Homo sapiens: one gene and its partners. The protein of the gene in region 1 interacts with the protein of each later gene in a biochemical or structural test. Each region holds a gene or a part of one and is shown in the gene's direction. Other genes may lie near its edges. The genes, in order: KAT7, CDC6, ORC2, H4C6, HAP1, CDK11B and ING4.

Evidence for each region.
Region 2: of the proteins of KAT7 (region 1) and CDC6, one has a biochemical effect on the other in vitro, tested with the Homo sapiens proteins (one study listed by BioGRID).
Region 3: of the proteins of KAT7 (region 1) and ORC2, one has a biochemical effect on the other in vitro, tested with the Homo sapiens proteins (one study listed by BioGRID).
Region 4: of the proteins of KAT7 (region 1) and H4C6, one has a biochemical effect on the other in vitro, tested with the Homo sapiens proteins (one study listed by BioGRID).
Region 5: the proteins of KAT7 (region 1) and HAP1 form a complex in vitro, tested with the Homo sapiens proteins (one study listed by BioGRID).
Region 6: the proteins of KAT7 (region 1) and CDK11B form a complex in vitro, tested with the Homo sapiens proteins (one study listed by BioGRID and IntAct).
Region 7: the proteins of KAT7 (region 1) and ING4 form a complex in vitro, tested with the Homo sapiens proteins (one study listed by BioGRID).

The regions. Positions count from the first base shown.
Region 1 is NC_000017.11:49,816,181-49,819,680, forward strand, and holds part of KAT7 (histone acetyltransferase KAT7), read left to right. Parts: intron 1-1,639; coding exon 1,640-1,831; intron 1,832-3,500. UniProt on the Homo sapiens protein: Catalytic subunit of histone acetyltransferase HBO1 complexes, which specifically mediate acetylation of histone H3 at 'Lys-14' (H3K14ac), thereby regulating various processes, such as gene transcription, protein ubiquitination, immune regulation, stem cell pluripotent and self-renewal maintenance and embryonic development.
Region 2 is NC_000017.11:40,289,573-40,294,421, forward strand, and holds part of CDC6 (cell division control protein 6 homolog), read left to right. Parts: coding exon 1-26; intron 27-1,485; coding exon 1,486-1,767; intron 1,768-1,896; coding exon 1,897-2,096; intron 2,097-3,883; coding exon 3,884-4,059; intron 4,060-4,377; coding exon 4,378-4,484; intron 4,485-4,791; coding exon 4,792-4,849. UniProt on the Homo sapiens protein: Involved in the initiation of DNA replication. Also participates in checkpoint controls that ensure DNA replication is completed before mitosis is initiated.
Region 3 is NC_000002.12:200,952,923-200,957,771, reverse strand, and holds part of ORC2 (origin recognition complex subunit 2), read left to right. Parts: intron 1-227; coding exon 228-371; intron 372-4,849. UniProt on the Homo sapiens protein: Component of the origin recognition complex (ORC) that binds origins of replication. DNA-binding is ATP-dependent. The specific DNA sequences that define origins of replication have not been identified yet.
Region 4 is NC_000006.12:26,239,244-26,242,642, forward strand, and holds H4C6 (histone H4), read left to right. Parts: upstream 1-1,149; 5' UTR 1,150-1,182; coding exon 1,183-1,494; 3' UTR 1,495-1,550; downstream 1,551-3,399. UniProt on the Homo sapiens protein: Core component of nucleosome. Nucleosomes wrap and compact DNA into chromatin, limiting DNA accessibility to the cellular machineries which require DNA as a template.
Region 5 is NC_000017.11:41,724,644-41,729,492, reverse strand, and holds part of HAP1 (huntingtin-associated protein 1), read left to right. Parts: intron 1-1,161; coding exon 1,162-1,292; intron 1,293-1,560; coding exon of another isoform or gene 1,561-1,656; coding exon 1,657-1,731; intron 1,732-2,060; coding exon of another isoform or gene 2,061-2,195; intron 2,196-2,348; coding exon 2,349-2,440; intron 2,441-3,595; coding exon 3,596-3,634; intron 3,635-4,338; coding exon 4,339-4,792; 3' UTR 4,793-4,849. UniProt on the Homo sapiens protein: Originally identified as neuronal protein that specifically associates with HTT/huntingtin and the binding is enhanced by an expanded polyglutamine repeat within HTT possibly affecting HAP1 interaction properties.
Region 6 is NC_000001.11:1,645,503-1,649,362, reverse strand, and holds part of CDK11B (cyclin-dependent kinase 11B), read left to right. Parts: intron 1-3,860. UniProt on the Homo sapiens protein: Plays multiple roles in cell cycle progression, cytokinesis and apoptosis. Involved in pre-mRNA splicing in a kinase activity-dependent manner. Isoform 7 may act as a negative regulator of normal cell cycle progression.
Region 7 is NC_000012.12:6,656,006-6,660,854, reverse strand, and holds part of ING4 (inhibitor of growth protein 4), read left to right. Parts: intron 1-4,055; exon of another isoform or gene 4,056-4,056; coding exon 4,057-4,128; intron 4,129-4,849.

The DNA.
Region 1 (3,500 bases):
AAACCATAGGCGCCCCTTTGTCTCAGCTGGGCAATTTGCAATTCTGAGAACCTGTAGCCTAGGAGAGACTCATCTCTGTTGTTTTCTTAATCCCAACAGGAACTCCCCTTTTGCTAGGTTTCCTCTGCACTAAGAATGAAAATAACAGTGAAGAGGAATAATGGAAAAGGCTGTTGTCAGATGTTTTAGAATTAATCTTTGACACAGCCAAGTTTGATACATTGGTTTTCCATTCTGATATTTATTTAGAGCTAGTTTATACTGAGTTGCTGTCCTAGGCAGAATTTTTAACAACTTTGCTTGAAGAAAATTCTGGTGATTGAGTTTACCTCTGATATAACAGATTAAATGTGTTCAGGGAAGCTCAGTTTTAAAGTGAATCTCGTCTTCACCCCCTTCCCCCTTGTATTAAAAAAAAATTGTATCAAATACTAGACTTGTTGAAAACTTGGCAGAGGCAGGGTTTGCTGGCTACCCTTGGCTGGGATGGGCTGTTACTGCTGCTGGTTTTCTCTATCCTATTCTGGCATGGAGCATTTCCTGGGCTAGCCTTTTACAACTTTACACCTGGTTATGCTTACAAATTATACTTTTGTAGCCAACTCAGAGCCACTGAATGGAGATGGATATCCGAATTTTTTTTTTTTCTGAGACAGGGTTTTGCCCTGTTGCCCAAACTGGAGTGCAGTGGTGCCATCATGGCTCACTGCAGCCTCGACCTTCAGTGCTCAAGCGATTCTCCCACGTCAGCCTCCTGAGTAGCTGGGACTACAGGCATGCCACTACACCCATCCCAGAAATATTTTCTGCCTTCTAGAGTTTAGATTCTAGAATTATCATGCACATTTCAAAAATATTTTTTAAAGGGCCTGTTTTTTTTTCTAAGTGACCATTGTGGATATATTTCACGGAGATTCATATAGCTTTATAAAAGCTTCTGCAGATAAGTAAGGCAGATTCTAAATCAAGTTTTTTGTTTAGTTTTAGAATACTTTATAAGGGTGGGGAGTTTGTATCTGTGATGATTTTCTTTATAATTCAGTTTGGTCTAGGCTGATAAAAATGAAGTTTCCAAGGTATCATTCTGGTGAGGCCCAGAATGTGGGAGGTAGCAGAGAAACCTCTCTTTTGAGACCTGTGCTCTGGGCAGTATGGGTAGTAAGTTTTCTGTACACCTGTGTGATTTTTCATGTAGCTCTCTTTAGTGTAAATTCTCATGGATAGAAGCCAAATCTGTCTGATTTTTTTCATAGCCTAGCGTGGTGGCATGCACACACACTTTTAAAAACAAAGATAATATTTATTTTTTTAAAAAGGAGTTTCGCTCTGTCTCCCAGGCTGGAGTGCAGTAGTGCGATCTCGGTTCACCGCAGCCTCTGCCTCTTGGGCGATTCTTCTGCCTTAGCCTCCCAAGTAGCTGGGATTACAATTGTTTGCCACCACACCTTGCTAATTGTTGTATTTTTAGTAGAGATGGGGTTTTGCCATTTCGGCCAGGCTGGTCTCGAACTCCTGGCCTTAAGTGACCTGCCTGCCTCAGCCTCCCAAAGTGTTGGGATTACAGGAGCCACTGTGCCCTGTCTAAAAGCAAAGATAATAAATTCTGATCCTCCTTTGACTTTTGATTTCTTGGCAATAGGAGAAGTTAAGGCTGCAAGGCCAAATCACAGAGGGAAGCAACATGATTAAAACAATTGCTTTTGGCCGCTATGAGCTTGATACCTGGTATCATTCTCCATATCCTGAAGAATATGCACGGCTGGGACGTCTCTATATGTGTGAATTCTGTTTAAAATATATGAAGAGCCAAACGATACTCCGCCGGCACATGGTGAGTTGTCTTGGGTTCCTCTGCCTTGACCATGATGGCAATAAGCTGTAGGATCTCTAGATTTTGCCATAGCGATGGCATCTGTTCAGGCACCTTCTCAGTGGTCCTCAGCAGTGGGATGAAGGCATAGGAAATGACAGGCCACAGCTTAAGGCGGGGTATAGAGCCTGAGGTATGGCTTGTGCTGGGTGCCACCCAAAGCAGCTGAGGGCCCTTACCCACATCCTGTCATGTACATCTTCTTGTCTTTTGTTCTTGCTGCCTACTGCTCTTCATTTCCTCCTTGGAATATGAATTACCTCTGCCCACAGGTTTTGTGTGTCCCAAACTAGATGAAAATACAGACTTCATTAGGCACAGCAGAGACAGCATGGCTCACCTTCATATCCCTAGCAACTAGTGTGGACAACTGATGCCCAAGAAGTATATGTTGAATGGGTACTTATTAATATTTAATAGTGATCAGCCTGTGACAGATTATGAAAGTAGCAGAGTGGGTCCTTTGGTGCCTTCCCCTCTTTTTCCTAATAAAACAGGTATAAGGAGTTGAATCTGTTATTGTTGACAAATAGGTTTACTAGATTTTTTGCAGCTTCAAAAAAAAAGCCATTTTTCCCCCGCTCTGTTACAGAATAAGCTTTGTCTTAAGGGGAATTTCTGCCATGGAGCAAGGGTGCGGAACAGGGGAAGGAGTAGAGATTAGCCTTTCAGGCAGAGAAGACTTTTTCTTGTTTTTTTTTTTTTTGAGAGGGAGTCTTGCTCTGTTGACCAGGCTGGAGTGCAGTGGCGCGATCTTGGCTCACTGCAACCTCCGCCTCCCAGATTCAAACGATTCTCCTGCCTCAGCCTCCTGAGTACCTGGGACTACAGTCGCACACCACCACACCTGGCTGATTTTTGTATTTTTAGTAGAGACAGGGTTTCACCATATTGACCAGGATGGTCTTGATCTCCTGACCTCATGATCCACCCACCTCAGCTTCCCAAAGTGCTGGGATTACAGGCATGAGCCACTGTGCCCAGCCCTTGTTCTCATAATCACAATATAATTTGGCTCTAAGGCCTCTGGGGTGTCTCTTTTTCCTTCCCCTTCCTTTTTTATTTCCCAGGATTTCCATATGTTGAGCATCTATGACCCAGGTTTCCTGTGATTTCTGTCATTATACTCTTCTCCCCAGTTTGGTTGGTGATAACTGCTTTTTTATGTTCCCAGTTCAGGAGCATGTGGTCTGTAAGTTCAGGGCCCAGAACTGTTGCTTTGACTCAGGTTCTCCAGACCCTGGCACACTTGACTGCATAGGGCTAGAGTCATGGAGGGGAGGTGATTGGCGGCGATTGGTAGAAATATCAGTGCACAGGAAATAATGGGGTCAGAAGGTGGGGCACTGATACAGATGGCAGGCCGTGGAGATAAAGTAAAATGGTTTTACTGTGTGAAAGCGGGTATTTTTATTGATGTGAACTGCTTACCATTTATGCCTTTTTTCCTTTTCGTTTCTGGTTGTTGAGTGACACAAACCAATGAAATAGCCAAAAGGGCAAGAAATAGTAATAGAAGGAGAAAACAAAGAGTCTGAATAAATCTGAGAATCAAATAAACATTCTGAATATTTGAAAATCTTCCATATTATATGATATAAAAATCAGATTTCAGGAAATACCTAATTTA
Region 2 (4,849 bases), 9.5 Mb from region 1:
GCCTCTCAGCCCCAGGAAACGTCTGGGTAAACCATCCATTATATCACTTTTTCACTAGCAGCTCGTGACCTTTCTTTTCTTGGTAAGATGTGTGTCCTTTGAAGGAGCTTTCTAAGTTCAGTTAAGACTTCTTTTTTTTTTTTTTTTTTTTTTTGAGACAGAGTCTCGCTCCATCTCCCAGGCTGGAGTGCAATAGTGCGATCTTGGCTCACTGCAACCTCCGCCTCCTGGGTTCAAGCGATTCTCCTGCCTCAGCCTCCCAAGTAGCTGGGATTACAGGCGCCCACCACCAAGCCTGGCTAATTTTTTTTTTTTTTTTTTTTGGATTTTTAGTTGAGACAGGGTTTTGCCATATTGGCCAATCTGGTCTCTGAACTCCTGACCTCAGGTGATCCAACTGCCTCGGCCTCCCAAAGTGCTGGGATTATAGGCATGAGCTACCGCTCCTGGCCTAAGACTACTCTTCATTTTAGTTATTTTCAGAATGGTTGCTAAGTGCTTACCGAACTCCAGAGTTAGACACTTACTGAGGTCACTCTGAACTACTTAATAAGTCTGATCTTCAATTCCTTAATACTGAACTTAGTTCTGTCAATGTTTTAAGTTACCTTGTAGTTACATGGTATTATGAAACTTACCTCAATATTTGTGAAATTAAAAGAAACAAAAACGTGACATGATGAATATTTTCCATCCTTTAGGACAGTGATTGGTAATTCTTTCTTGTTTTGGAACATTTATTTTTAAATGGGGGGTAATTTGGTTGTTTCTGGAGACATTTTTGGTTGTTACAGCTGGGGGTTGCTACTGGCATAGTGGGTAGAGGCCAGGGATGCTGCTAGACATTACAATGCACAGGACAGCTCCTTGACAATGAAGAATTATTTGGTCCAAGATGTCAGTGGTGCCAAGGTTGAGAAAACCTGTTTCAAAATAGCCTTACAATTTCATCCTACTAAAACCCATTTGGTTTCTACTAAATGCAGTAGTCCCCACTTATCCATGGGGGATACATTCCAAGACCCCCAGTGGACGCCTGCAATCGAGGACAGTACCAAACCCTACATATACTGTGTTTTTGATTTGATAACCAAGTCAGCTACTAAGTGACTAGTGGGTGGATAGCATATACAGTGTGGATATGCTGGCTGAAGGGATGATTCATGTCTTGGGTAGGATGGTGCGGGATTTCATCATGGCACTCCACAGCATGCAATTTAAAACTTGTCAATTGTTTATTTCTGGAATTTTCCATTTAGTATTTTCAGACTGAGGGTAACTAGAACGGTGGATGAAGGGACTACTGTAGTAAGATCAGTGGTGCCATCTGGTGACCAATATTTGCTGCTAAGTGAGAAGGCATTTTATTTTGGTGGTTCTGACTAAGGTAGAAATTCACCTCTTTCTGGAAGAGGCAGAGGTCTTGCACATCCTTTTACTATCCAATGCTATGAGTGACTACATTTTTATTTTATTGTGTTTCAGGCGATGACAACCTATGCAACACTCCCCATTTACCTCCTTGTTCTCCACCAAAGCAAGGCAAGAAAGAGAATGGTCCCCCTCACTCACATACACTTAAGGGACGAAGATTGGTATTTGACAATCAGCTGACAATTAAGTCTCCTAGCAAAAGAGAACTAGCCAAAGTTCACCAAAACAAAATACTTTCTTCAGTTAGAAAAAGTCAAGAGATCACAACAAATTCTGAGCAGAGATGTCCACTGAAGAAAGAATCTGCATGTGTGAGACTATTCAAGCAAGAAGGTTTGTTCTTACATGGCAACTGTTAGTGCAGCCATTGTAACCAAGGCTGATGACTCCAAATGAAACCACCCACTGGGTCTTCTCATTCACCTTCTGTTGTGTCTAATTGACCTTTTATGTCTGGCACAGGCACTTGCTACCAGCAAGCAAAGCTGGTCCTGAACACAGCTGTCCCAGATCGGCTGCCTGCCAGGGAAAGGGAGATGGATGTCATCAGGAATTTCTTGAGGGAACACATCTGTGGGAAAAAAGCTGGAAGCCTTTACCTTTCTGGTGCTCCTGGAACTGGAAAAACTGCCTGCTTAAGCCGGATTCTGCAAGACCTCAAGGTACATTGAGAGTCTGAATTATGATACTCTTGGTAAAATGATACTTGGGTGTTTTTGTTTGTTTGTTTGTTTTGTTTTGTTTTGTTTTGTTTTTTGAGACGGAGTCTCGCTCTGTCGCCTAGGCTGTAGTGCAGTGGCGCGATCTCGGCTCACTGCAAGCTCTGCCTCCCAGGTTCACGCCATTCTCCTGCCTCAGCCTCCCGAGTAGCTGGGACTACAGGCGCCCGCCACCATGCCCAGCTAATGTTTTTTGTATTTTTAGTAGAGACGGGGTGTCACTGTGTTAGCCAGGATGGTCTCGATCTCCTCACCTCATGGTCCGCCCTTGTTGGCCTCCCAAAGTGTTGGGATTACAGGTGTGAGCCACCGCACCTGGCCTGTTTTGTTTTTGAAACAGGGTCTCTGTTGTCCAGGCTGGAGTGCAGTGTTGTGATCTCAGCTCACTGCAGCCTTGACCTCTTGGGCTCAGGTGATCCTCCCACCTCGGCCTCCTGGATAGCTGGGAATACTGGCACTCACCACTACACCCAGCTAATTTTTTGTAGAGACAGGGTTTCACCATGTTGCCCAGACTTGTCCTGAACTCCTGAGCTCAAGTAATCTGCCTGCTTCAGCCTCCCAAAGTGCTGGGATTACAGGTGTAAGCCACTGTGCCTGGCTGGCACTTAGTTAAGAAAGAGGGCTAGGCACGGTGGCTCACACCTGTAATCCCAGCACTTTGGGAGGCTGAGGTGGGTGGATCACCTAAGGTCAGGAGTTTGAGACCACCCTGGTCAACATGGTGAAACCCTGTCTCTACTAATAATACAAAAAAAAATTAGCCGGGCATGGTGGCAGGTGCCTATAATCCCAGCTACTCGGGAGGCTGAGGCAGGAGGATCACTTGAACTCGGGAAGCAGAGGTTGCAGTGAGCTGAGATCGCGCTACTGTACTCCAGCCTGGGTGACAGAGTGAGACTCTGTCTCAAAAGAAAAAGAAGGCTGGGCATGGTGGCTCACGCCTATAATCCCAGCACTTTGGGAGGCCGAGGCGGGCGGATCATGAGGTTAGGAGATTGAGACCATCCTGACTAACACAGTGAAACCCCGTCTCTACTAAAAATACAAAAAAAATTAGCCAGGCGTGGTGGCGAGTGCCTGTAGTTCCAGCTACTCGGGAGGCTGAGGCAGGAGAATGGCGTGAACCCACAGGTGGAGCTTGCAGTGAGCCGAGATCGCGCCACTGCACTCCAGCATGGGCGACAGAGCAAGACTCCGTCTCAAAAAAAAAAAGAGTTAAGAAAGAGTAGGCCTGGTGCGGTGGCTCACACCTGTAATTCCAACACTTTGGGAGGCTGAGGCAGGTGGATCACCTGAGGTCAGGAGTTCAAGACCAGCCTGGCCAATGTGGCGAAACCCCATCTCTACTAAAAATATAAAAATTAGCTGGGTGTGGTGGTGCATCCTTGTAATCCCAGCTACTTGGGAGGCTGAGGCAGGAGAATCACTTCAACCCGGGAGGCAGAGGTTGCAATGAGTTGAGATTGTGGCATTGCATTTCAGCCTGGGCAACAGAGTGAGACTCCGTCTCAAAGAAAAAAAAAAGAAAGAAAGAAAAGAAAGAGTAGAAGTTTAGAAGATTGAGGGTTTCTTCAAAATAAAACATTTGTAATTTCATTGTTTAAATCTTTCCAAATGAAAGTAGAGCTTCCTTACGTGCTGTTAGCTCTTCAAAGACATTTTAGGCTCTATCAGATCTTTATTTTCTGAGGCCAAAATAACTCCCATATTTGCATTTTTTTTTCCAGAAGGAACTGAAAGGCTTTAAAACTATCATGCTGAATTGCATGTCCTTGAGGACTGCCCAGGCTGTATTCCCAGCTATTGCTCAGGAGATTTGTCAGGAAGAGGTATCCAGGCCAGCTGGGAAGGACATGATGAGGAAATTGGAAAAACATATGACTGCAGAGAAGGGCCCCATGATGTAAGTATTGTTCTGCTTCATGTTGCTCTGTGAAAATCTGCAAGGTCTGTTGCCCATAAAAAGTACATTTTGTATATTTTCTCTCTGAAGGATAGTTACATAAACTTAAAGGGAAAGAAGAGAAGGAAGATACACCTAATTTTAAATTGGATTACTTATAGATGATGTGGGGTATCCTTGTAGCAGTAACTAGAGATAGGTTAGATTATGATCTTTAAACTGGTCTCAGCTTTAGGAAAGTGACCTGAAGTCAGCCTATATCAAACATTAGAGGGTTAAGAAGGTGAATATGGATACTAACTGTTTCTCTTTTTATAGTGTGTTGGTATTGGACGAGATGGATCAACTGGACAGCAAAGGCCAGGATGTATTGTACACGCTATTTGAATGGCCATGGCTAAGCAATTCTCACTTGGTGCTGATTGGTTAGTGCTCAATTGTTAATGTTACATGGTGGTTCTAAAGTATTTTTTAAGAATATATATTCAGCTTATTTATCAGCTATTTTATCTTAAACCAGCTTTCTGCCGTGTCAAAATAAGAAAGTTAAATGACTATGTACATCTTACCTAATAGATACATCTTATCTATTGGGATGGGGTAGGAGACAAGTGGCAAGCAACAATTAGAATGCTAGATTCTATAACTGGAGATTTATTTAGCTTTCAGAAGATTTAGTTTTCCCTTTAGGATAATTTGACCAATGATCAATGTTGTTGATCTCCTCCTTAGGTATTGCTAATACCCTGGATCTCACAGATAGAATTCTACCTAGGCTTCAAGCTAGAGA
Region 3 (4,849 bases), on another chromosome or scaffold:
GGTTATTTTGAACCCTAAAAATATATACTTTCAAGATTGTGTGTGTTTTTTTTTTTAACTATATAAACTGTGGAAGAGTGGTCAGAGTGGTCAGTTTTAATCAAAGAGAAAGCTTTTTTCCCAGCTTTTAAGTAATGACAATATAAATATTATAATTTCTTATTTAAATGTAATGTTTAGAAAGAATTTATACCTGTCATGCTCTATTTCTTTGGATGTTCTTATAGGAGCTAAATTGAAGAAGGAGCGAGCGCAGCTTTTGGTCAACCCCAAAAAAATAATAAAGAAGCCAGAATATGATTTGGAGGAAGATGACCAGGAGGTCTTAAAAGATCAGAACTATGTGGAAATTATGGGAAGAGATGTTCAAGGTATTTGAGGGGGTGAAATATACACTCGTTTCTGCTAGTAGCAGAAATTGCTTTATAGGATACACAAAAGTAGTCTGGTAGGTTAAACAGTGGTGTTCTATATGATCATGTTTCTCATCTAAAAAGCATTTGCTTCAATTTCTCCATAGTTCTTTTTTTTAACAACCAGTCCTGCACATAGTTTTCAGTAAGAAGGAATCTATAGACCAACCACTCTAAAGTTATTTTATTTTTAAAATTTTTCCAGGATACATGTGTACAATGTGCAGGCTTGTTACATAGGTATACATGTGCCATGGTGGTTTGCTGCACCTTTCAACCCATCATCTAGGTTTTAAGCCCCACATGCATTAGCTGTCTGTCCTTATGCTCTCCCTCCCTCCACCCACCCGCAGGCTGTGGCATATGTTGTTCCCCTCCCTGTGTCCATGTGTTCTCATTTTTCAACTCCCACCTATGAGTGAGAATATGCAGTGTGTGGTTTTCTGTTCCTGTGTTAGTTTGCTGAGGATGATGACTTCTAGCTTCATACATGTCCCTGCAAAGGACATGATCTCATTCCTTTTATGGCTGCATAGTACTCCTAAAGTTATTTTCAAGATTATTTATTTATTTATTTATTTATTTTAGAGACAGGGTCTTGCTCAGTCACCCAGATTGGGATGCCATGGCACAATCATAGCTCATTGTAGCCTCCAACTTCTGGGTTCAGGAGATCCTCCCAACTTAGCCACCTGAGTAGCTAGTACTATTTTTAAGGTATTTATTTATGGCCAGACATGGTGGCTCACGCCTGTGATCCCAGTACATTGGGAGACTGAGGCAGGAGGACTGCTTGAGCCCAGGAGTTTGTAACCATCCTAGGCAACATAGTAAGATCCCGTTTCTACAAAAAAAAAAAGTTTTTAATTAGCTGGAAGCTGGGTGTGTGATGGCTCATGCCTGTAATCTCAGCATATTGGGAGACCAAAGCAGATTGATCGCTTGAGTCCAGGAGTTTGAGACTAGCCTGGCATGGTGGCACACACCTGTGGTCCCAGCTATGAGTGAGGCTGAGGTGGGAGGATCACTTGAGCCTGGGAGGTTGAGGCAGCAGTGAGCCGTGATCATACCACTACACTCCAGCCTGGGCAACAGAGTGAGACCCTGTCTCAAAAAAAAAATAAAACTAGCTGAGCATGGTGGCGTGTGCCTGTAGTCCTAGTTACTTGGGAGGCTAACGCAGAGGATTGCTTGAGCCCAGGAGGTTGAGGCTACAGTGAGCTGTGATTGCATCACTATACTCAGCCTGGGTGACAAAGCGAGACCCTAGGTCAAAACAGAACAAAAAAAAGATATTTATATTTTTAACTTATTTAAAATACCTTTCTAAAGCAAGTTACTTTATTCTTACCTTGATCTTTACAGAACTAGGAGGAGCATTTCAAGAAGTAGTGTTCTAACCCAGGGATGCTGGTATTATGTGTGTGGTTTTAATTTTTACATCTAAGCCAGATTCCTGCAAGATTATTCTTAACATAAAACATTTTTTTAGGTTCGAATTATATTTTAGTTAGGTTTTTCCTGGGTACAAGGAACACAGATCCCCACAACCTAGCTTAAAAAAATAATGACAAAGGAAAGAAATCAATATTGTTGGGTACTAGGAGAGTTGGAACTGGGACAGTGTTAAAAACTGAGGAACTGTGCTTTCATGAGTCTCCAGGTCTCCCTGTGTCATCTCTGTGCATCTGTTCTGATTTCTCTATGCCACATATTTTCTTCATGTACATGTGTTTTATTCTCACATACTTATAAATGTCCATCAAGTTCCCAGTGTTAAGTGATTTGGTTTTTCAGTTCTCCCATTCTAGATTCTCAAGAGTCAATTTAGCTCAATTCATTTTTAAAATCTGGACATAGAAATAGCATATAATTGGAATATCCACAGATGAATCACAGTTGAGTTATCTGTGCCTATTACTTATTATATTAATGAACATAATTACATAGTTCATTAACTATGGGGGTAGAGTCATATACTCCATGTATAGAGTTATACAAAAAATGACCACTGCTCCTCAATAGATTTAGTGGGCTGGGTAGGGTCTCCTATGTGTCCACAGCTAGACAGTTGACATTTTTTGAGCATATTCTAAATAAAACTTGGTGTTCTTGACTCCCTATTATGCCAGGCCTAAGAAGAGATTGATAACAGTATTCCACAAAGGAAACTTTTATCATAAAAATTGTCTCTTAAAAAAGTAGTATGTTTGTTGTAGAAATTCAGTGCTTCCAACCTTTCTCACATAACAGCACTCACAGCAAATGATATTTGGAGGCACAATGGAATAAATAGAAGAGGATGCTGCAGACCAAGGACAAATACCCCAGGGCCCTAACCCTACCCCTGCTACTGGCCTTGATTGGCATCCTCAAAGGCCTGAGAGAATCAGTACTCAGCACATATGAAACCCATACCATTTATTTATTTATTTATTTATTTATTTATTTATTCATTCATTCATTCATTCATTCCTCACACTGGGGAACTTTGCCTTATTTTTTGGCATCATGCCCTATGTTTTTCAACCTTTTTAAAATTATTGACCCCTAATTAGCCTTTTTAGACATTTTCTCCTAATCACTTTTTCCCACCCTAAAAATTTCAGTACTACATATATGCTGTATATCTGTTTATGTACTGTGACGCTTTGGAGGGCCACAGACTATTATATTAATAATGTCAAAGTCTTTTTTCCACACTCCCTCCTGTGCCAAGATCCAGTTTTACCCAATTGGGAGATGTATTGTACCTGTCAAGAATGCCTGCTTTAGAGAACGTGGAACCGTTAACATTTCAGTGTGTATCTTCTGTCTGTTCATACATGCATGGGCACACATAAGCTTGCACCATTACGTTTATAAATAGACTTTTTGCAATTAATAATGTATCATATATACATTACTCTGTCATTAGACATTCTTCTACAATAAGAGTTTTGACATGTATTGCCAAATATCCTCCTAAAGTTTATACAGATTACACTATTTAATCATAGTTACATTTTCCTAAAGACTTAGTTTTGGCCAGGTGCAGTGGCTCATGCCTGTAATCTCAGCACTTTGGGAGGCCAAGGCGGGTGGATCGCCTGAGGACGGGAATTCAAGACCAGCCTGGCCAACATGGCGAAACCGTGTCTCTACTAAAAATACAAAAAATTAGCTGGGCGTGGTGGTGGGTGCCTGTAATCTCAGCTACTCGGGAGGCTGAGGCAGGAAAATCGCTTGAACCCGGGAGATGGAGGTTGCAATGAGCCAAGGTCACACCATTGCACTTCAGCCTGGGCAACAAGAGTGAAAATCCATCTCAAAAAAAAAAAAAGAAAAAGAAAGAAAGAAATCCCAAATCCCATCTCTACAAAAAACATACAAAAATTAGCTGGGCGTGGTGGCATGCACCTGTAGTCCTAGCTGCTCAGAAGGCTGAAGTGGGAGGATCACTGGAGCCCAGGAGGTTGAGGCTGCAGTGAGCCACAATCACACCATTGCACACTAGCATGGGTGACAGAGCAAGAATTTATCTCATACACACACAAAAAAGCTTAGCATCTGAACCATTTTTAAAGTGTATGGGTTCAGTGGCATTAGGTACATTCACACCATTTGTAACCAATCTCCCAAACTTTTCTCATTGTACAAAACTGAAATTTATTCATCTGTAGATGGACACTTGGGTTGCTTCAACCTTTTGGGTATTGCGAATGATGCTGCTATGAACATGGGTGTACAAATACCTCTTTGTGACCCTGCATTCAATTCTTTGGGGTTTATACCCATAAGTGGAAATGCTGGATCATGTGCTAATTCTATTTTTAATTTTTTAAGGAACCACCATACTTTTTGCACAGTGGCTGCACCATTTTACATATCAACCTACAGTGTACAAGGGTTCCAATTTCTCCACGTTCTTACCAACACCTATTTCCTTTTTTAAAAAAAAAAAAAAACAGTAGCCCTTTTAATGGATATGAGGCGGTGGTTTTATTTTCTTTTAAATTTAACATATCGTTAAATTCTCAGAGGTCAGTCTTCGGACAAAAAGAACTGTAATAGCTAGTAGTATTGCATTCTAATATATAAATAATGTGTGGTTTTCTATATTATACTTTTGGATTGTTTGTAACTTTTTATTAGTGTAACTAATGCAGTAGTGATTGATTTTGATGTAGGACTTGAGTCTTTGAATGTAAGTTTGTTGGAGATCAGCTGGTTGAACAGTATTGCCTTTTTTTTTTTTTTTTTTTTTGAGACAGGGTCTCACTCTGTCACCTAGGCTGGAGTGCAGTGGCACAATCAAGGCTCACTGCAACCTTAGCCTCCCTGGGCTCAGGTGATCCTCCCACCTAAGCCTCCTGAGTAGCTGCAACTACAGGTGCGGACCACCATGCCTGGCTAGTTTTTGTATATTTTGTAGAGGTGGAGTCTCACCATGTTGA
Region 4 (3,399 bases), on another chromosome or scaffold:
TATACATTGAAAAACTAAGAATGAAACTTCAATTAATATTGGTTTCCCTTACTAGAGGTCTTTCTTTATTAGGAATGCCAAAAACGATGTGAATGTATATGTCTCTGCCAAACGCTAAGTCTCATGATTGGCCAAATTTAAGAAGTATTGCTACATTTTAAGAATTAATAAAAATGGCCGGGCGTGGTGGCTCACGCCAGTAATCCCAGCACTTTGTGAGGCCAAGGTGGGTGGATCACCTGAAGTCAGGAGTTCGAGACCACCCTGGCCAACATGGCGAAACCCCGTCTTTACTAAGAAAATACAAAAATTACCCAGGTGTGGCGACGCGTGCCTGAAATCACAGCTACTCGTGAGGCTGAGGCATGAGAATCGCTTGAACCCAGAAGGCGGAGGTTGCAGTGAGCCGAGATAGCGCCACTGCACTCCAGCCTGGGCAACAGAGTGAGACCCCGTATCAAAAAAAAAAAATTAGTAAAAATACATTTTCAAAGAATCTTCACATTTAAAAATTAAAGCTAGGCGCCTGTAATCCCAGAACTTTGGGAGGCCGAGGCGGGTGGATCACCTGAGGTCAGGAGTTCGAGACCAGCCTAGTCAACATGGCGAAACCCCATCTCTACTAAAAATACAAAAATTAGCCGGGCGTGGTGACGCGCGCCTGTAGTTGCAGCTACTGCAGGGGCTGAGGCAGAAGAATCGCTCGAACCCGAGAGGCGGAGGTTGCAGTGAGCCGAGATCACGCCACTGCACTCCAGTCTGGGGCAGAGCAAAACTGTTTCAAAAGAAATAATAATTTTATTCTCTTGTCTATCCATTCGGTAGACAAGTGTAGCGTTACTGCCTCCTTTTTGCAAATAATAAGGATTTTAGGAGACAGACATTATCAGTTCGAGAGCCCACAGGCACTGGACTAGAAGACACAGAAACCTACACTCAAGACCCAAACAAGGAAACAGGAAGGAGTCAAATCAACTTGCATTTCCCCTACCCTCACCGCCCCCTTTCCTTCCCAAGGCAATAGTGTAGGGGACGCCCAGTAAGTTACGGAAAAGGCGGAGACAGAGGTTTCGTTCCCGCCCCTCCAATTCAGTCTCCAAAAAGGTCCGCATAATTGATATATAAGGGGCTTCAGTGTGTAGCAAAGTTGCAAAAGTTAAGAGTTGTTGTTTGTCTTCGATCATGTCTGGTAGAGGCAAAGGTGGTAAAGGTTTAGGAAAGGGAGGCGCCAAGCGCCATCGCAAAGTGCTGCGTGACAACATACAGGGCATCACGAAGCCCGCCATCCGTCGCTTGGCCCGACGCGGCGGCGTGAAACGCATTTCGGGCCTCATTTATGAGGAGACCCGCGGTGTTCTTAAGGTGTTCCTGGAGAATGTGATACGGGACGCCGTAACCTACACGGAGCACGCCAAGCGTAAGACAGTCACTGCAATGGATGTTGTCTACGCGCTCAAGCGCCAGGGACGCACTCTGTACGGCTTTGGTGGCTGAGCCTCACCCCGGCTTTTTATTTAACAGCTCACCCATAAAAGGCCCTTTTCAGGGCCACCTCCTTCGTCACACGAAGGGCTGTAACTGATGACGACTTGGGTTTCGTTTTGTAAATTTGGGATTCTAACTGAGTTAAACCGAGCCGTTTTTAGCGATCTTCCTAAGATGGCGGATGTGCTAAGGAGAAAGGGAAGGCGAAACATTAGAAACTTGTTCAGGTATTTCGATCGCAAACATTCACAGGAAAAGATGGTGGAAATGGTTTGGGAATACCAGCAGCCTTTTATGACGTATGTGATGTGTTTTATTCCCACGTTTCTGAAATTTACTCCTATGTTAGGTGGCTGGGACTTAACTACACTAGCATTACATGTTTAGTTTTTGAGATGGAGTTGCTCTTGTCCAGGCTGTAGTGCAATGACGCAATCTCGGCTCACCGCAACCACCCCCTCCCGGGTTTAAGCGGTTCTCCTGACTCAACCTCCCGAGTAACTGGGGTTACAGGCATGCGCCACCACGCTTGGCTAATTTTTTATTTTTAGTACAGAAGGGGCTTTTCTGTGTTGGTCTGGCTGGTCTCGAACTCCCGACCTCAGGTGATCCGCCCTTCTTGGCCTCCCAAAGTGCAGGGATTGCAGGCGTGAGCCACCGTGCCCGGCCTTAGTGTTATTTATTAGGCATAGAACGTGAGTAATCTTAGGGCGGCTGTGGACAGATCAATTACTGGTAAACTTAATCCACTACTTGTGTCCGGGCGCGGTGCCTCAGGCCTGAATCACAGCACCTTGGGAGACCACGGCGGGCGGATTACTAGAGCTCAGGAGTTCGAGACTAGCCTGGGCAACCAAAATGGTGAAACTCCGTCTCAACTAAAAAAGTTAAATAGGAAAGTTAGCCCGGCGTTGTGGCGGACGCCTGCTGTCGCAGCTAATCTGCAAGGGCTGAGGCAGGAGAATCGCTTGAGCACGGGAGGCGGAGATTTCAGTGAGCTGAGATGGTGCCACTCCACTCCTGCCTGGGCGACAGAGACCATGCCTCAAAAAAAAAAAAAAAAAAGTAAAGTTTGGCCGGGCTCGGTGGCTCATGTCTGCAATCCCATCTGTAATTCCAGCAGCTTGGGAGGCCGAGGTGGGTGGATCACTTGAGCTCAACGAGTTCGAGACCAGCCTGGCTAGCACTGCAAAACCTCGTCTCTACTAAAAATACAAAAATTAGACGTAGACGTGGTGACACGCGCCTGTAGTCCCAGCTACTCGGGAGGCTGAGGCAGGAGAATCACTTGAACCCGGGAGACTGAGGTTGCAGTGAGCCGAGGTCGCGCCACTGCACTCCAGGCCTGGGGCACAGAACAAGGCTCCGTCTCAAAAAGAAAAAAAAAAGCCCAAGTTTTTGTCTTACCCAGTGAATTCTTTGTTGGGGCACTTACTGTGATTTCAGGTCATTGATAATTTTACTGCTTTATTTCTCAAGTACTGGTAATTTATAACCCAAAGTGTTTCTCCTTGTGCTTTGTCAACCTACCCGGTTATCACCCGCGATCCTGACTCCTAACGTTTTCATTTTTTCACCATACCGAAGAAGTGGCTTCTCATCTGTTCTTTTTTTGTCAATGGTAATTCATTACATACACTGTTCCACAAATATTCTTCAACTTGGGGTTTCCTCTTCAAGAAGCCTTTACCTGATTCCTATGGGCAAAATCGGTGTCTGGGGTTTCCTTACAATTCACGAAGCACACTCTACACATGTCCCTAGCCCTACTTCAGAATTCCCTATACGACTTAGGAGCTACTGCACACTTAAATAGTTGGGAGTAATTCTTGCCCTCTTCCCAAGATATTTTCAGGTCTTGAACAATGTCTTTAATTTAGTATCCTCAGGATGTAGTATTTAGTTCATAAATGT
Region 5 (4,849 bases), 8.1 Mb from region 1:
CTGCAACCTCCACCTCCCGAGTTTAAGCGATTCTCCTGCCTCAGCCTCCCGAGTAGCTGGGATTACAGGCATGCGCCACCATGCACAGCTAATTTTGGTATTTTTAGTAGAGATGGGGTTTCACCATGTTGGGCAAGCTGGTGTTGAAATCCTGACCTCAAGCGATCCATCCCCCTCAGCCTCCCAAAGCGCTGAGATTACAGGCATGAGCCACTGTGCCTGTCCCAAGACCTCATTTCTTAAAAAACAAGTAGCCGGGTGCAGTGGCTCACCCCTGTAATCCCAGCACTTTGGGAGGCAGAGGCAGGTGGATCTCTTGAGGTCAGGAGTTTGAGACCAGCCTGGCCAACATGGTGAAACCCCGTCTCTACTAAAAATACAAAAATTAACTGGGCGTGGTGGCGCATGCCTGTAATCCCAAGTACTCGGGAGGCTGAGGCAGGAAAATCGCTTGGACTCGGGCGGCAGTTACAGTGAGCCAAGATTGCACTATTGCACTCCTGCCTGGACGACAGAGATTCGGTCTCAAATAAATAAATAAATAAACCAACAAACCCAAGTCTGACCACGTCATTACTGTGCCTAAAACTCCCAAATAGCTTTCCATTGGCCAAAGGATAAACCCCACCCCCTTGCCCACTACTGTGGTCTGGCCTGTGTGCACTGTTCTGGGCCCTCCCCGTCCCAGTGTCTTATGATGGCCTCTGGGCCTTTCCAGTCAGCTTGGACCCATGTTTTTCCTTCTTTGCCTGGGTGAGCTTCACTTGCCCTGTGGTCTTAGCTTAGTGGTTCCTTTTTCCAGGAATCCTTCCTTACCTTGCAGGTCGGGTTGGGTGCTGTAGCTGTGATGCCCCTGCCCTGTACACCCTTGACATTTGCCCATCATGGCCTGTATGATGTGTGACTGTGGTCTGTCTCCCCACCAACTTTACCTCAGTGTGGCGGCTGGGTCTTACTGACCACTCACCCTGGTGCCCTGCTCAGTATCAGTCAATGAACATTTCTTGAATGGAAGACCTGAGTGAGGAATGCAAAGCCCTGCAGGACCCACTGGCACAGCGCAGCAGCCGAGGGTGGGGGAGACAGAGGCATCTGGGAGGGCCAGAGCTGGTCCCTGAAGGCCAGGGGAGCCAGGGCTGACCTGTCCTCTGCCCTCCCCAGCGGAGGCCAGCCAACAGATGGCTGAGCTGTCGGAGGTGCTGGTGCTCAGGCTGGAAAACTATGAACGGCAGCAGCAGGAGGTCGCTCGGCTGCAGGCCCAGGTGCTGAAGCTGCAGCAGCGCTGCCGGATGGTGAGTCGGGTGTGTGTGGAACCCTCTTGTCGTGGCCCCATGGGACCCTAGCTTCCTTCTTCCTGCCTCCACTCGGCTCCACCAGGCCTGAGGTCCCTTTCTGTGTCAGAGTCAGAGACCTCAGAGAGCCCCTTATCTTGACCCCTTGTTATCTTGAGGAGACCAAGGCCCAGAGAGGGTCCTGGAGTCTTCTAGGAACCAGGCTGCGTGACTCCCCTGCCTTCTTTGCCCTCCTTCCGTGTGACTTGTCATTTCATGGGCTGCCAAGGACTCACTGATGTGCCTGGGAAGACTTGCTGGAAGCAGGGGGTGCCCTGAGTGGGTAGGCCTCAGATGGGGGTTCACTGGTTTTGGGTCCTTCCAGTATGGGGCTGAGACTGAAAAGTTGCAGAAGCAGCTGGCTTCGGAGAAGGAAATCCAGATGCAGCTCCAGGAAGAGGTGAGTCTCGCTGCCGGCTTCTGCCCCCACCCTGGAGAGCCGCTGGCCCAGAGTGGGGACCCCAGGCCCTTGGCAGCTACCTGACTCTGGAGAGGACTAGCAGGAACTGAGTCTTGTCCGTTTCCACCCCCTCCATGCCTGGCACAGCCCAGCAGGTGACAGTTCCATCAAGGTCTGAGTGGTGTGGAGTGCAGGGACCTGCCCTGGGTCCCCCACATGACACTTGGAGTCCAGAACCTGGGCCTCTGGCCTCAGCCTGAGAGCAGATAGGCAGGAGTGCTGGACTGGGTGTGCCTGGGTCCCAGCAGAGCGTGTGGGTGGGTTCCCAGCTGCAGGACCTGCGGGAGAAGTACATGGATTGTGGGGGCATGCTGATTGAGATGCAGGAGGAGGTGAAGACCCTCCGCCAGCAACCCCCAGTGTCCACTGGGTCTGCCACCCATTACCCATACAGCGTGCCTCTGGTGAGGACCCTCCCCTGGCTGCCCACTTTCCTACGTCTGTGCCTGTGTCTCAGCCTTGGTGGCTGATTGAGATCCCAGTTCCCTTCTGTGCCTGAGCCTATGGGTGGGGGTTCTGTGGGGGTCCTCTGGTAACGTCTGTTCTCTCCACCATAGGAGACTCTTCCTGGTTTCCAGGAGACGCTGGCTGAGGAGCTCAGAACGTCTCTAAGGAGGATGATCTCAGACCCTGTGTATTTTATGGAGAGGTGCGTGGCTGGGGCCCTCCCTTGCCCCATAGGCCATGGCCTTTCCTGTAGTGGGGAGGGGGTTTGCCCTCACACTCTGACCTTCCACGCTTCCCTATACCCGCCTCGTTCACTGCATCAGCCCCTCCACTCATTGCTTCTCTATGAATATGGACCCATCACTTCCCCCTGAGGTATTTTTTTTTTTTTTGAGATGGAGTCTTGCTCTGTCACCCAAGCTGGAGTGCAATGGTATGATCTTGGCTCACTGCAACCTCTGCCTCCCAGGTTCAAGCAATTCTCCTGCTTCAGCCTTCCGAGTAGCTGGGATTACAGGCATGTGCCATCACGCCCGGCTACTTTTTGTATTTTTAGTAGAGACACAGTTTCACCCTGTTGGCCAGGCTGGTCTCAAGCTCCTGACCTCAGGTGATCTGCCCGCCTCAGCCTCCCAAAGTGCTGGGATTACAGGCGTGAGCCATCATGCCCAGCCTGAGGTTTTTTTTTTTTTTTGAGACGAGTCTCACTCTGTCACCTGGACTGGAGTGCAGTGGCGAGATCTTGGCTCACTGCAACCTCCATCTCCTGGGTTCAAGCGAGTCTCCTGCCTCAGCCTTCCAAGTAGTTGGGACTACAGGCACGAGCCTGGCTAATTTTTTTTTTGTTTTTTGAGATGGAGTCTTGTTTTGTTGTCCAGGTTGGCGTGATCTCGGCTTACTGCAACCTCCGCCTCCTGGGTTCAAGCGATTCTCCTACCTCAGCCTCCTGAGTAGCTGGGACTACAGGTGGCCATCACCACGCCCGGCTAATTTTTGTATTTTTAGTAGAGATGGGCCAGTAGAGATGTTGGCCAGGCTAGTCTTGAACTCCTGACCTTGTGATCCACCCGCCTGGGCCTCTCAAAGTGTTGGGATTATAGGCGTGAGCCACTGCACCTGGCCAAGCCCAGCTAATTTTTGTAGTTTTAGTAGAGACGGGGTTTTACCATGTTGGCTAGGCTGGTCTTGAACTCCTGACCTCAGGTGACCTGCCCACCTCGGCCTCCCAAAGTGCTGGGATTACAGGCGTGAGCCACTGCTCATGGCCACTACCTAAGGTTCTTCAGCTTGACCAAGCCCCAGGGACTGCAGTTTCGGCTTCCATTGTCTCATAATGAAGGTCCTTTTCTCTTTGAAGGAATTATGAGATGCCCAGAGGGGACACATCCAGCCTAAGGTAAGCCTGCCAGGGGCTCCCCTACAACCTGCCCTCAGCTTTCAGCAGCCAGACAGCCCACCTGCCTCTGGTTCTGCCACCCTGCAACTCCGGAGAAGGCCCTGCTATCTCGGCTGGCTGAACTGAGAACTGTTCTGGGAAGGAGCTGCCCCACTTTTCCTTCAAATCTTGCCCCCTGGGTGGCCGTCTGATTCCAGGCAGCTCTGAGTGGGGACTGAAGCTTTCTTTTCAACTGACTATGGGCTGAGAGGTGACAGGCACTGGCTTAGGAGCTGGGAACACCTGGGACTAAGGCCCAGCGTGGTCCCTTTCCTGACTGTGTGTCCTTGGGCAAGTCATTTGACCTGTCTGAGCCTGTCTAGAATGGATTTGTTCCTATGGCAAGTAGCTGTGGGGTGGGCTATGAAGGTTAAATCATGCAGGAGGGAGGCAGAAGTGGGTGTTAACCCTGTTGGTGTATTCCGTGCAGGGTCAGGGACATAAAAGAAGATGGGGCCTATGCAGTGTTGGTGACCATTCTTCCTCCCTCCCACCAGGGGGATGGGCTGGGTATTTGAAGCCTTGGAGCTGGTACCTAGCTCCCCTCTCCCCTGGCTGGGACAGAACCAGGAGGAACCATCAGGATCTGTGTGGAGACGGGTGGGGGTGGGCCTGGGGGGTTGGACTTTCCAGCCCCTCAAAAGATGTCGCTATCTCCCGCCCAGGTATGATTTTCGCTACAGTGAGGATCGAGAGCAGGTGCGGGGGTTTGAGGCTGAGGAAGGGTTGATGCTGGCAGCGGATATCATGCGGGGGGAAGATTTCACGCCTGCGGAGGAGTTCGTGCCCCAGGAGGAGCTGGGGGCTGCCAAGAAGGTGCCGGCTGAGGAAGGGGTGATGGAAGAGGCAGAGCTGGTGTCAGAGGAGACCGAGGGCTGGGAGGAGGTGGAACTGGAGCTGGATGAGGCAACGCGGATGAACGTGGTGACATCAGCCCTGGAGGCCAGCGGCTTGGGCCCTTCACACCTGGACATGAATTATGTCCTCCAGCAGCTGGCCAACTGGCAAGATGCCCATTACAGGCGGCAGCTGAGGTGGAAGATGCTCCAGAAAGGTGAGTGCCCCCACGGGGCCCTCCCTGCCGCCAGCCGGACAAGCTGCAGATCGTCGTGCCGATGAAAAGAGAGGGTGGATAAGCTCCCCGAGTGCTCACCTGCCCCAGCCTGGCTCTACCTG
Region 6 (3,860 bases), on another chromosome or scaffold:
TTGGGAGGCCGAGGTGGGCGGATCATGAGGTGAGGAGATGGAGACCATCCTGGCTGACATGGTGAAACCCCGTCTCTACTAAAAAAATACAAAAAATTAGCTGGGCATGGTGGCGGGCACCTGTAGTCCCAGCTACTTGGGAGGCTGAGGCAGGAGAATGGCGTGAACCCGGAAGGTGGAGCTTGCATTGAGCTGAGATCCCGCCACTGCACTCCAGCCTGGGCGACAGAGCGAGACTCCGTCTCAAAAAAAAAAGAAGAAGTCACATTTGGTGCAGAAGTGGTAGACATGGAAACAGCACAGTGAACGCTGGACGAGGCTGACCAAGAGAACTGTCCTGAGGGAGTGAGTTTTCACTGCATCTGGAAGTAAGAACGGGTGTGATTTGATTGAGGGAAGACAATGAAGGGATCAGAAATCTGCATGTCCGGCCGGGCGCGGTGGCTCATGCCTGTAATCCTAGCACTTTAGGAGGCTGAGGTGGTTGGATCCCTTGAGCCTGGAGGTCAAGGCTGCAGTAAGCTATGACCATGCTATTGCACTCCAGCCTGGTTGACAGAGTGAGACTGTCTCAAAAAAAGGAGAAGGGAGATCCTAAAAACCTTGAAACAGTCTGGAATTCGGGACCCTGGACTCCCAGGACTCCTGGCCATTAGTTTATATATTCGTTCCCCTTTATGAGCCAGATTCCCAAGAAAGAACATCGGTGTAGCCCCAGATCTGTTCCGTGAACCAGGAAAAAGGCTGTAGGCCAGGTGGGAGCAGGCCCATCTCCGCCTTCAGAGTGAGTCCACAGAAAGCTTGCAAGCTGCTCCAGGAAGAGAGGAGTCTGAAGCGGAAGGGCAGCGATGTTTGCCAGCAGCCAGGGCTGGGTACACAGCATGTAAAGATGATGAGAGGGCGCTGGTTCTTGTTGATGCCGAAGGGTGTGGGAGACACTGAGGCCCAGGGGTCAAGGTCCGAGACCGCTGCGGGGTGAGCAAGGTTTCAGTTGGCCTAGTTCCTGTTAGTGTGTGAAACATTCATGTATGCCACACCCTGTGCCAGACATTGAGTGTGTCTTGTCCCACGAGAGTACAGCTTGGGATAGAAGTGGAGGTTGGTAGATGAAATTTGGGCTGTCATATTGATTTCCCAGAAGGTAAAGACAGGAGAGTGAATGAGCAAAAATTGTTGGGGGCAGACTTCTGGGTAGGGCCGATTCAGATCAGCCAATCCAGAACTGGGTATGGTAGCATATGCTACGTGGGAGGCTAAGGCCAGAGGACCGCATGACGCCAGCCTGGGCAACGTAGGGAGACCTTGTCTCTGACAAAAAGGAAACTGATAAGGATAATCTGAGAAGCACTGATGCTTGGAAAACTGCTGAGCTGTGGGTGAAAGCAGTAAGAATCTGACCTTCTGGCCTGAGAGCTGCTCCCTTTACTGCTTCCACTCTGCACTTGGGAAGCACGGAGGTTCCACTGGGACAGGGCAGCTGCAGGACCTGCAGTTTCCTTGCTGCCTTGGAAGGGGTTACTCCGTTTAGAGCAGTGGGCAGTGGCCTTGCCCACCAGCATCCTCAGTGGAGGGAGGAAGAAAAGGCCAAGAGGTCTGCTAGAATGAAGTACAGTGTGGTTGGGAGCAGCTGTGATCTCGCCAAAGACGTGCAGCAGAGACTGGAGAGAGCTCGAGCCGCCACCCACTTGTGACCAGCCCTGAGGATGCAGCTGCGTGAAAGGACCTGGCAGAAAATAGAAGCCGCCACAGATGCGAATGACGCGTGAACGTTCAGTGTGCTCCCTGTCCACACACAGCCGTGGGCCAAGGAAGCCTTACTGTGCTCGAGGTATTTGAGCCCAGCCTTTTTCCAGTGCTGGCTAATTGCTAAGCTGTGCAGCCATGGTGGTGACCCCTAGGAAGCCAAGGTTGAAAATTAAAATAGGCATGTGGGAAGGAACGGGGTGGCCACGAGCTGTGAGGGAGATGGATTTCACGGACAACCAGACAGGCCTCGGTGGTAACAACGAAAGGGAAAACTTAGAATCCAGAATTGCTACAAATGTATTATCTAAAATACAAAGAAGTATGACAGTGTGACCCATACTGAGGAAGAACATCATCAGTAAAAACTGTCTGAGTGTCCAGATGTTGAATTTAGTAAAGGCTTGGAAACAACTTGTGGATGGAGCAGTAGAAATTATCCATTCTGAAGAACAGAGAGAAAAAAACAAGAAAAATGCACAGAGCCTCAGAAACCCGTGGTACAACATCTGCTGTACCAAAGCACGTCGAATGGGGGTTCCAGGAGAGAGGAAAGATATTTGTTACAATAATGGTTAAAAACTTTCCAAATTTTAATTAAAAAATATGCACATTCAAGAGCACAGGAAGTTTGAACTAGAATAAATGCAAAGTCACATCATAGTCAAACTGGCAAAGGCCAAAGAGAAAATGTTGAAAGGCCTCAGAGAAGAATGACCCATCCCATGAAAGGGGAGCTTCAATACCGCCAGCCACTGACTTCTTAGAAACAATGGAGGCCAGAAGGCAGTGGAGTGGCATACTCAAGCTGCTCAGAGAGAAGAACCATCAGCCAGGAATCAAAACCGTTCTACACAAGTGAAAGGGAACGAACGACATTCCCTGAGAAGCAGAGACTGGTGGGATTCATTGTTGGCGAAACCTGCCTTAAAGGAAATACTAAAGGAAGACCTTCAAGTTGAATAGAAATGACACCAGACGGTAACTTGAATCCTCAGGAAGGAAGGACAGGCACTGCAGATAGCAAGTGTAGGTTGACGTCAATATCCTGTAACTATCTCTCCTCACATCTTAGGTTTTACTGGAACTACGATTGTATAAAATAATTACACTGTTGTCATGGTATGTGGCATAAATGGACTGCACAAAGAAGACAGGGAATAAAGCTGTGTTACAACAGTTTTATATTGTACTGGACTTGAGCTAGTATCATGAGGCATACGGTGATCCCTAGAGCAACCACTAAGAAAGTTGTTTTCTTAGTGTTTTAAAAAGTACAAATAAATTAAAATGGTATGCTAAACATATGTAATTTAAAATCAAAAAGGGAAGAATAAAAAAGACACAACAAAGCAAGGAAAGTAAATCCAACTGTACGTGTAATTATATGACATGTGAAAGGTCTCTGTGCCCCAAACAGACAGGGCAGATTATCAGATAGAAAAACAAGATCTAACTGTATGCTGTCTGCTAGAGAACAGGAAAAGACGCAGCGTACAAACATCAGCTGTCATAGGAGAGCTTGAATGGCTGTACTCATACCAGACAAAACAGATGTTAAGAAATATTAGAAACCAGCCTGGCCAACATGGTGAAACCCTGTCTCTACAAAAATCACCTGGGTGTGGTGGCGCACACCTGTAATCCCAGCTACTCGGGAGGCTCAGGTATGAGAATCACTTGAACTCGTGAGATGGAGGTTGCAGTGAGCCGAGATTGCGCCACTGCACTCCAGCCTGGGTGACAAACCAAGACCCTGTCTCAAAAAAAAGCTAGAAACAAGAAGGAGCAAGGACTTCACAGCCAGAAACAGGCCAATACAGCAGGAAGATACAGCAATGATACGTGTGAATGCATCTAACCACAGAGCCCAAAATCCATGAAGCAAACACCGATCGAATGGAAAGAAATGGATCATTTATTAATTAGAATTGGAAATGGCAGCTGGGCACGGTGGCTCGGGCCTGTAAACCCAGCACTTTGAAAAGCGGAGGCAGGCGGATCACGAGGTCAGGAGATTGAGACCATCCTGGCTAACATGGTGAAACCCTCGTCTCTACTAAAAATACAAAAATTAGCTGGGAGTACAGGGCGCACGCCTGTAATCCCAGCTACTC
Region 7 (4,849 bases), on another chromosome or scaffold:
ACAAGAGCGACACTACACCTCAAAAGAAAAGAAAAGAAAGTTACTCAGCGGAGAAAAGATCATGCCAACTGCTGCAGAGATATTTTTTAGGATAGGCTTAATAACACCATTAGATTTGGTAAATCACCAGTGACTCAGTCTTGTGAACTGGTGGTAGCAGACCTGAAGTTGTAGGTTTAAACAGTAGAGGCATTTTATTTTTTTTTATTTATTTTATTTTAGTTTTTCTGTTTGTTTGTTTGTTTTTGAGACAGAGTCTCACTCTGTCACCCAGGCTGGAGCGCAATGGTGCGATCTTGGCCCACTGCAACCTCTGCCTCCCGGGTTCAAGTGATTCTCCTGCCTCAGCCTCTTGAGTAGCTAGGATTACAGTGCCCGCCACCATACCCAGCTAATTTTTGTATTTTTAGTAGAGATGAGGTTTCACTGTGTTGGCCAGGCTGGTCTCAAACTCCCAACCTCAGGTGATCCACCCACCTTGGCCTCCCAGAGTGCTGGGATTACAGGCATGAGCCACCGTACCAGGCCTTTTATTTTTTATATATATATTTAATTTTTATAGAGACAGGATCTGGCCATATTGCCCAGGCTGGTCTCAGACTCCTGAGATCAAGCGATCTACCTGCCTTGGCCTCCCAGAATGCTGGGATTACAGGCGTGAGCCACTGTGCCCAGCAAGTAGAGGCATTTTTAAAGTTTTAGGTGGAGTCTTGGCAAGAGATTTCTCTTGTACTGGGGTGACAAATATTCATGCATTTATTCAAGTATTTACTGAGTACCTGCTCTTTGCAAGTCATAATTCTAAACACTATGGAAACAGGAGAGAATATGATAGCCATGTTCGGCCTGGGGAGACAGATACCAAATAACTAATTACACATTATTTTTTTTAATTTTTTTGTTTTTTGAAACAGTCTTGCTCTTTTGCCCGGGCTGCAACCTCTACCTCCCTGGTTCAAGCAATTGTCCTGCCTCAGTCTCTTGAGTAACTGGAACTACAGCCACAGGCCACCATGCCCATCTATTTTTTTTTTTTTTTTTTGAGACAGAGTCTCGCTCTGTCGCCCAGGCTGGAGTGCAGTGGAGCGATCTCGGCTCACTGAAAGCTCCACCTCCTGGATGCACGCCACTCTCCTGCCTCAGCCTCCCGAGTAGCTGGGACTACAGGCGCCCGCCACCACGGCCAGCTAATTTTTTTGTATTTTTAGTAGAGACGGGGTTTCACCATGTTAGCCAGGATGGTCTCAATCTCCTGACCTCGTAATCTGCTCTCCTCGGCCACCCAAAGTGCCGGGATTACAGGTGTGAGCCACCGCGCCTGGCCTAATTTTTGTTTTGTTTTGTTTTTGAGATGGAGTCGCACTCTGTCACCCAGGCTGAAGTGCAGTGGTGCGATCTCAGCTCACTGCAACCTCCACCTCCCGGATTTAAGCAATTCTTGTGCCTCAGCCTCCCAAGTATCTGGGATTACAGGTTTCACCATGTTGGCCAGGCTGGTCTTGAACTCCTGGCTTCAAGTGAGCCACCCGCCTCGGCCTCCCAAAGTGCTAGAATTACAGGCATGAGCCACCGTGCCTGGCCCTAATTTTTGTATTTTTAGTAGAGATGGGGTTTTGCCAGGCTGCCAAGGCTGGTCTTGAACTCCTGGCCTTGAGTGATCCACCTGCCTTCCAGAGTGCTGGATTACAGGCATGGGCCACCGCACCCAGCCAACTAATTACACATTTATTTAATTACAGTTGGATAAGTGCTTTAAAAAGGTGGCTAGAATACCTTGACATAGATCGAGGGCAGTTAACAGAGTCTGGGAAAGTTGAGTTTGAGCTGAACTTTGGAAGAACGAACAGGAATTTAATAGGCCAAGAGGGATGGGGTGGATGGGATGAGGAAAAGCGAGCGGTGCATTCCAACTAGAGAGAACAGCATGTGGAAAGCCAAATGGCAGGAGGAGCACAGGCCAGTTTGAGGCAGTGCGAGGAGGCCAGTATGGGCAAAGCAGAGCACAAAGGGAGACTGACATGAGTTCAGGCTGGTGTGAGGTAAGCAAGGGCCAGAAAGCGCAGAACATCTTCAGAGCAGTAGGAAGTGACCAGAAGGTTATAAGCGGGAGAGTGACTTGATTAGGTTTGCATTTTTTATTTTTGTGTTTGTTTTTGTTTTTGTTTTTTTGAGTCAGTGTCTTGCTCTGTCATCCAGGCTGGAGTGCATTGGCGTGATCTCGGCTCACTGAAATGTCCACCTCCCAGGTTCAAGGGATTTTTGTGCCCCAGCCTCCCAAGTAGCTGGGATTACAGGCATGTGCACCAAGCCTGGCTAAGTTTTTGTATTTTTGGTAGAGACAGAGTTTCACCATGTTGCCCAGGCTGGTCTTGAACTCCTCAGCTCAGCTGATGCGCCCACCTGGGCCTCCCAAAGTGCTGGGATTACAGGCATGAGCCACCGTGCCTGGCCAGGTTTGCATTTTTTAAAAAGGACATTCTGGCTACTATATGGAAGTAGATTGGAAGTGTTATGTGTATAATAGAGGATACCAGGAGACTATTTGTAATTTGAGGACAAAGAGCTTGGAGGCAGAGATGGAAAATAAAAGAAAGGGGCCCGTCTTAGTGGCTCATGCCAGTAATCCCAGCACTTTGGGAGATCAAGGCGGGCGGATCACCTGAGGCCAGGAGTTCAAGACCAGTCTGGCCAAAATGGTGAAACCCTGTGTCTACTAAAAATACAAAAATTAGTCGGGTGTGGTGGCGCGCGCCTGTGGTCCCAGCTACTCCAGAGGCTGAGGCAGGAGAATCACTTGAACCCAGGAGGTGGAGGCTGCAGTGAGCCAAGATCGTGCCACTGCACTCCAGCCTGGGCAACAGAGCCAGACTCCGTCTCAAAAAACAAAAAAGGAAAAGAAAGGGAAGAGCTTTTTTTTTTTTTTTTGGAGACAGAGTCTCGCTCTGTCACCAGGCTGGAGTGCAGTAGTGCAGTCTTGGCTCACTGCAACCTCTGCCTCCCAGGTTCAAGTGATTCTCCTGCCTCAGCCTCCTGAATAGCTGGGATTACAGGTACGTGCCACCACACCTGGCTAATTTTTATATTTTTAGTAGAAACAGGCTTTCACCATGTTGGCCAGGCTGGTCTCGAACTCCTGACCTCGTGATCCACCCGCCTCAACCTCCCAAAGTGCTGGGATTACAGGCTTGAGCCACCACACCTGACGGGAAGAGCTTATTTATAAAGGAAGGTCACTGAAGGCGAAAAGGGTGGGATAGCCATGCAGAAATGGAAAGGTTTTGTAGAGAAAGAGTTAAGCATGGCCTGTCATGAGAGAACTGATCCATCCTGTCACAGATAAATCCAGAGGTTCAGAGGAAGGAAAACTGAGCTGCACTTTATTTTTTGTTTGTTTGTTTGTTTGTTTGAGATGGAGTCTCACTGTGTCGCCCAGGCTGGAGTGCAGTGGTGCGATCTCGGCTCACTGCAAACTCCGCCTCCCAGGTTCATGCCATTCTCCTGCCTCAGCCTCCTGAGTAGCTGGGAGTACAGGCGCCCGCCATCGCACCTGGCTAATTTTTTGTATTTTTAGTAGAGACGGGGTTTCACCATGTTAGCCAGGATGGTCTCAATCTCCTGACCTCGTGATCTGCTCTCCTCGGCCTCCCAAAGTGCTGGGATTACAGGTGTGAGCCACCATGCCTGGCCATTTGTTTGTTTTTGAGACAGGGACTTGCTCTATTGCCCAGGCTGGAGTGCAGTGGCTCAATCACGGCTCACTGCAACCTCTGCCTCCTGGATTCAAGTGATTCTCATGCCTCAGCCTCCCAAGTAGCTGGGATTAGAGATGCCCACCGTCACACTAGGCTAATTTTCATATTTTTAATAGAGATGGAGGTCTCGCCATGTTGGCCAGGCTGGTCTTGAACTCCTGGCCTTGAGTGATCCACCCCCTTGGCCTCCCAAAGTGCTGGGATTGCAGGCGTGAGCCACCATGTCCGGCCTGAACTGCACTTTAAAAGGAGCTGTAAGGCCTATGCATAGTCAGTCCTGTGATTGTTTCTCTCTCTTCCCTAGGTATTGAAAACCTTCCCTTTGAATTACAGAGAAACTTTCAGCTCATGAGGGACCTAGACCAAAGAACAGAGGGTATGTATAGAGTAAAAAGTTTTTGTATCTAATGAGTGTGTGTAATCATTTATTTTTCTACTTGATGTTACCGTATCATCTGGTATGATCTGGAGAACTGTGGCTTCTCTCGCTCCTTTTTTACGCTCTTGGAATTCTTAAAACAGGATAATGATCCTCATTTCTGTGTCAGCTTTTTCATAACAAATAGAGTATTGTGAAAACGCCTCAAGAATTCAAAGATGCTGTGTTCTTTATGTCTTCCTGGAGAATAATTAGCCAGGCTGGCTCACACCTGTAATCCCAGCACTTTGGGAGGCCTAGGCGGGCAGGTAACTTGAGGCCAGGAGTTTGAGATCAGCCTGGCCACATGGTGAAACCCCATCTCTACTAAAAATACAAAAACTAGCCAGGTGTGGTGGCACGCACCAGTAATCCCAGCTACTTGGGAGGCTGAGACGTGAGAATCGTTTGAACCTGGGAGGTGGAGGTTGTAGTGAGCCCAAATCATGCCACATGTCACTGCACTCCAGCCTAGGCAACAGAGCAAGACTCTGTCTCAAAAAAAAAAAAAAAGAAGAATTAAAGAAAGTCAACTCGAGTCATTTCTGCTCTCCACGTTTGATATATTTATAGGATGACTAGAATGTTTCTACTTCTCTCATTGTTAATGTTACTGTCACAAATTCCCAGTGTGACTTTAGACTGCAACATATGTTGGTAGATGGGAGGTTTGCTATAT